Regions from separate parts of the Homo sapiens genome. Here region 1 is linked to region 2. Evidence: fine-mapped expression QTL. Tissue or cell type: whole blood. Region 2 holds a variant in brackets; the other region holds the start of a gene. All regions are shown on one strand. Distances are from middle to middle.

The links. PIP is the estimated chance that this variant, and not a neighbour inherited with it, causes the effect.
Region 1: TENT2 starts here. The variant in region 2 is fine-mapped to the expression of TENT2 in whole blood (TOPMed, PIP 0.97).

Annotation. Positions count from the first base shown.
Region 1 is chr5:79,611,285-79,614,043 of GRCh38, reverse strand. TENT2 (terminal nucleotidyltransferase 2) reads right to left here and starts at 1,603. Exons shown (of 15, transcript NM_001114394.3): 1 at 969-1,603. LOC124901014 (a long non-coding RNA gene) reads left to right here and starts at 1,707. Exons shown (of 2, transcript XR_007058840.1): 1 at 1,707-1,902; 2 at 2,024-2,573. RefSeq lists an enhancer at 799-1,998.
Region 2 is chr5:79,639,040-79,641,798 of GRCh38, reverse strand. TENT2 (terminal nucleotidyltransferase 2) reads right to left here. Exons shown (of 15, transcript NM_001114394.3): 5 at 834-948; 6 at 603-694. Among named protein-coding and RNA genes, the nearest start is that of TENT2, 28 kb to the right of the region's middle. The variant G/A (reference allele first, on the strand shown) is at 1,342.

The sequences.
Region 1 (2,759 bases), 28 kb after region 2:
TGCAACCTGGAATTTCTGTCCTCAACTTGACCTCTCCTCCAACAAATTAGAGAACACTCAAGGTTATATATAATTCCTTCATCAGGATTCTTTAGAAAGCAGAATATACCTAGAATGAAAACCAGAAATTTACTGGCTAAACCAAGATACTGTCCATTTTGTCCAAATACCTTTGATATCTCAAACCCACTTTTCTCCACAATACGAAAAATCCAGTTCCTAAATCCTGCCAACCCACTGTGAAAACTACTTCCAGGTTTTGAACAGGATATTCCTTTTGGTTAAGAATTAAATTACACCCAAGTGTTCAAAAAAATAATCTAGTCACATGGCTCCAAATGGGCATTTCTTAAACAACTCATAAACGGCCTATTTCACATGGAACCTGTTACAGGACATTTCCAGAACAGACATAATTAGGGCTATTCACACCAACAAAGTAACGTCACTATTACTGGCTATTAATCAGTATAAATTAATAGCCTTATGGCTGTTAATCAGTACGTGTTAGAAGCCTGGTGGTACTGAACCATACAATATGAAGATATTTACAAAAGTTACTATGTTACCTGTAATATAAAAACACAGATTTAGTAATCAGTTACAATCTCTTTCTTCACAAAATCATACACTGCACATGTGTTATTTAGCTTGTGTTTTACAGTTTCCCTTTGTTTCTTCTCTGTTCACCCTAATGAAAAATATCTGCTACTTTAAACAAAGAGTTGAAAGAGATAAGACAAGTAATTTAGAGAATCCATAAGTTTTGAGACATATAAGCCTTTCGTGTTCTCACCTTGAGAGACGAAGAGCTTTTCTACAAAGGCTGAACAAGAAAAGAAACGCACACAACAGTCTTAACCTGTGCATTTTCCTATAAAGTGAAAAGCTGAAGCAATTTCATGCCATTTAATTAAGGCTTAAAAGATAAATGCCTTTTAAATTTTTTAATTAATCCAGCTACGTACCTTAGTTCTTCACCACCCTTTGAAACACCATGCAAGGGTCCCAAGACTATCTTCCTCTTTTGGTCCTGGAGTGGTGGACGAGGCAGTACGCGAGGAATAGAAAACGAGTAAGCAAAGTAAGCGGTCCTAAGATTCTTCAAAATGTACAGCAGCCCAGATGCCGCCCATAAATTTGGAATAACCAAGAGATACTGCTGGAACCTCCCACGCAAAACAAAACGCTACCGTTTCGGAAAAGTTTCCCGTGCCCCGCCGCCGACCTGGGCCTACACTGCTGCGTTCCTCTCCGAAACCCCCTAAACTCACAGGTGTCCTCCGGGAAGGGCTAAGCAGGGCCTACCCGCACTGCCCGTTCAGAAGTTCTAAGGCCCGAGCTGGGCGTACTTGGTCGTAGCTTTCTCCCGAACCAAAGGAGGTAGTGGTGGCCCGTGGGACAGCTAGGCCCAGCTCCGGCTCCGGCTGAGATCTAACCCCCCTCACGGCTGCCAGGGGAGGAGCAACACAAGAAAAGGTAGGGGCTGCAAGGATATAGAAGGTTGGGGGCGGTGGCAAAAAGCGGAAGAGCAAAAAGTCGCCGAAAAAGCGGCGTAGAAAACCCTGTCAAAGACACCCGGAAGACCGACGTGACCCCGGATGAGAATAGGCAGCGGGGAGCGAAAGGTCACACTTCCGGTGGCCGCCTCCCTCCCACCCCCCAACCCCCCCCACCCCCCAACCCCCCCCACCCCCCCCACCCCGCCTATGAGCGCTTTGCTTGAATGCGCAGGCGCAAGACAGCCGGATTTGAAAGGAGTTTCTTAACTGCTGCCAGCACAAGTTGGGAAAGGGTTAGGACTGCACTAAGAGGGGTGGAGCAGGCAGTCGCCGGAGGGCCACTTCTGGGCCCCTTGCCTGAACTCACGTGCAGCCGTTCTAGCTGTAACAGACGTTTTCTGTGGGTCCTTCGTGTGTTGGCCGAGTGACTTGTCCCCAGAGAAGCCTTTCTTTAACCAGTGTTCCCCTAATCTTCTCCCCCGGAGCAACATTAAACTTTATCTGTTCTTTTGCCCCTCCAGTAACCTGAGAGCTTCTTTGGAAGGAAAATGCTTTCTTTGGCCGGACGCGGTGGCTCACCCCTGTAATCCTAGCACTTTGGGAGGCTGAGGCGGGCGGATCACGAGGTCAGGAGTTCGAGACCAGCCTGGCCAACATGGTGAAACCCCATCTTTACTAAAAATACAAAAATTAGCCGAGCTTGGTGGCGTGCGCCTGTAACCCCGCTACTCAAGAGGCTGAGGCTGGCGAATCGCTTGAACCCGGGAGGCGGAGGTTGCAGTGAGCCGAGATCGTGCCACAGCACTCCAGCCTGGGCGACAGAGCAAGACTTTGTCTCAAAAAAAAAAAAAAAAAAAAATGCTTTCTTTCTCTCTAAAGCCTGGACTTAGCGCCTTGCCCATAGTAATAGCTGGTATTCACTAATTCAACAAATATTTATTGATATCGCCTCTTGAGTGAGCTTTAATAATTTGTAGAAATGTCTAAATTGTTTAATAATGCAAATCTGTTAGCTGTATTCCTTTATTGTCCACTTAATGTCTATAAAATCTGACCCCTCAGGTTCTGAAATTGGTAATTTGTGTGTCATCTTTTTTTCTGATCGATCTGGTGAGGGGCTTCTCGGTTTACGGATCTCAAATCTCAAAGCCCGTTTTTGCTTTCTTGGATTTTCTCTACTGGTTTTCTGTTTTCTATTTTATTGATTTCTGCTCTTATGTTTATTGTTTCCTTTACTCTGCTATTTTTTAATTTTTA
Region 2 (2,759 bases):
AAAAACTCTAGTCCCAAGCATTTTAGATAATGAATACTCAACCTGTACTAAATTAACACAATATTGTTGCTAAAGAAAAAGAAAAAAAAACAAAGGCAAAATGTCATTCATAGAGAAAAATATTTTAAATTTAATAAACACGAGTCTTATTTTAAATTTTAGTGAAATCTATTTTCCCTTAATAAGCATTTTCAAAGAGAAAAAAAGTAAAGATTAAAAATAGAATCAGTGAGAATTCAAATGGAAAGGAAATACATCAAGAAGATAATATTGCCACATACTCTTCTTTGCTGCATCCTGGTAACATATCCAAACTAATGACATTTCAAAACAGAGGTAGAGCTCTTGAAAAAAAAAAAAACACATAGTGAAGCCATCTCACTTTAAAAACTTAGAATTAAATTAATGCTATACTTCCTATTATGCTTATTGTGCACATGCCTTAAAAATAAAAAATTACCTAGGTTTCCTGCAATTATGGTAAACAAAATTCAAAGAAGTAATCACAACAAAGCAAGTTTTTTCCCTCAATGACTTTTATGTAAAATTTCTTAACTCATTAACATGAGAAACACACTTGGAATAAATGTTTCCTTACTTACTGGTTCTTCCTTAACAACTAGGCATAAATCACCATCACTGCTCCGGGTACCAAATCCATTTAAAGAGGACCCAACCAAAAAAAGTCTGCTTTCTAAAGAAACAGAAGAAAGTAATAAGAGTATTTAAAATCTAAAGTAGGTGCATGGTTCTGTGCCTATTAAAAAAAAAAAAGATAAAATTTAAAATAGGAATGCATATACCTAAAGGACATGCAAAATAGGGAAACATACGTGGAAATAACAGCTGAATTTCTCTCTGCAGCTGTGTTCGACAGAGTTCTTTCTTCTTTAAATCACTTATTTGCTGCTGACATGTTTCAAATAACTCCAGTATCTGCTGACTCAACTTGAATCCACCGCAAAAAAAAGTAAAAGTTTTGTTCAGCAATGTAAAAGTAATTGCTATATGGAGAAGCATAAATCAATTATACTGACACTATTTTAAAAGGGAGTATGTATTATCTTCTTAATATTTCCCAAAACAAAGCTACTATTACTCAAGTACAGGAAGAGAATGGTCTGAAAAACCACACATAAATTTTACAAAGTAAAATATACAAGTCACAGAAAAGTACAGTCACAGATACTTCGTAATAAAAATAATCCATGGGTCAGCAAACTGTTTAACACTTGCTCACTTTATTAGTATGGCCCCTGAGAAAAGAATTTTTTTATATTTTTAAAGGATTATGAAAACAAACAAATAAAAATATGCAACAAACAATATGTGAGTGGCAAA[G/A]CCTGAAGTATTTACTATCTGGCTTTTTAAAGAAGTTTGCCCAATCCCTAGTATTCACACCCACAAATACCAAATATAAGAGATGTCACCAGTCCCCGGTCTTCCAGGCTCATGCAAACCACCCTCCATCCCATTCTTCTAACAATGCCCTAAACCCTAACTTCATGTTGCCATCGACTTACCACCTTTTTTTTTTTTTTTTGAGACGGAGTCTTACTCTGTCACCTAGGCTGGAATGCAGTGGTGCGATCTCGGCTCACTGCAACCTCAGCCTCCTGGGTTCAAGCGGTTCTCCTGCCTCAGCGTCCCAAGTAGCTGAGAATACAGGCATGTGCCACCACACCCAGCTAATTTTTCAATCTTTGTAGAGACAGGGTTTTGCCATGCTGCCCAGGCTGCTCTCGAACCCCTGACCTCAAGTGATCTGCCTGCCTCAGCCTCCCAAAGTGCTGGGATTACAGGTGTGAGCCATCACACCCGGCCCTACCACCCTTTTATCTACTGATCTGGTTCACACTTTTCCCTCCAGCCCAACTCTTGCCATCAACATAGGTGATTTCCCTATCTGAAATGGGCTACATATCACAACATACTCCCTTTCCGGACTTTTATTTCCTCCAGTATTCTTCATCAGTATACACTCCTATAATGTGGTCTTTACAATAAACTGGAACTGCTCTAGCTCTGAAATTTTAAATTCCAATATAATATCTTGGCTTCAATCTTCTATCCAGTTCACACTTTCTCACTCTCCTCATACCTGCTCTAGAACCACAAGAGATCTAGATTCCCTTGAATCCTCCATTTTCTCCCAAGCCATCAGCATAAAAATGGTGTTATTTCTTTCCCTATGCAGTCTATACTACACAGTGCATCCCTTGAACCACTCTCTTATCGTGCCTCAACAACATTATCTCCTTGTCATGTTCTAATACTTGTCCTACAAAACCCTAATCTTAGGTCAATATAAAAAAAAAAAACCACCTTCACTGCTCTTACATCTAAGTTGCTAAGAAACAAAACTGAAAAAAAAATTAAAAATCATAAAATTGGAGTATTTCAAGTTTATAGTCTTAGGTTGGCCCTTAGCATCACTTAGCAATTACTTCCAAGTCTTTGGTTAGATATCACTTCTGTTTTTCATACCATTCCAAAATGTTTACTACCTTTTTCAAGCCCTCTAAACTTATCTCCCTTTCTCTAGCAAATACAGTTAAATTAAAGTTTACTAAGAAAATTGAGAATACCAAATGTGATATTCCTCAGCCTCTTAACCACAGACCTAAAAATGAACATATCTGGGGAAAAAAAAAAAGGCGTCCTTTTCCCCTGTTCAAAGCTAATCTCTCTACCAATAATTTTGTATTCAAGCCTTCTGGTCACCTTAAGGGCACAAACACGTCTACCAGTATTTCAGT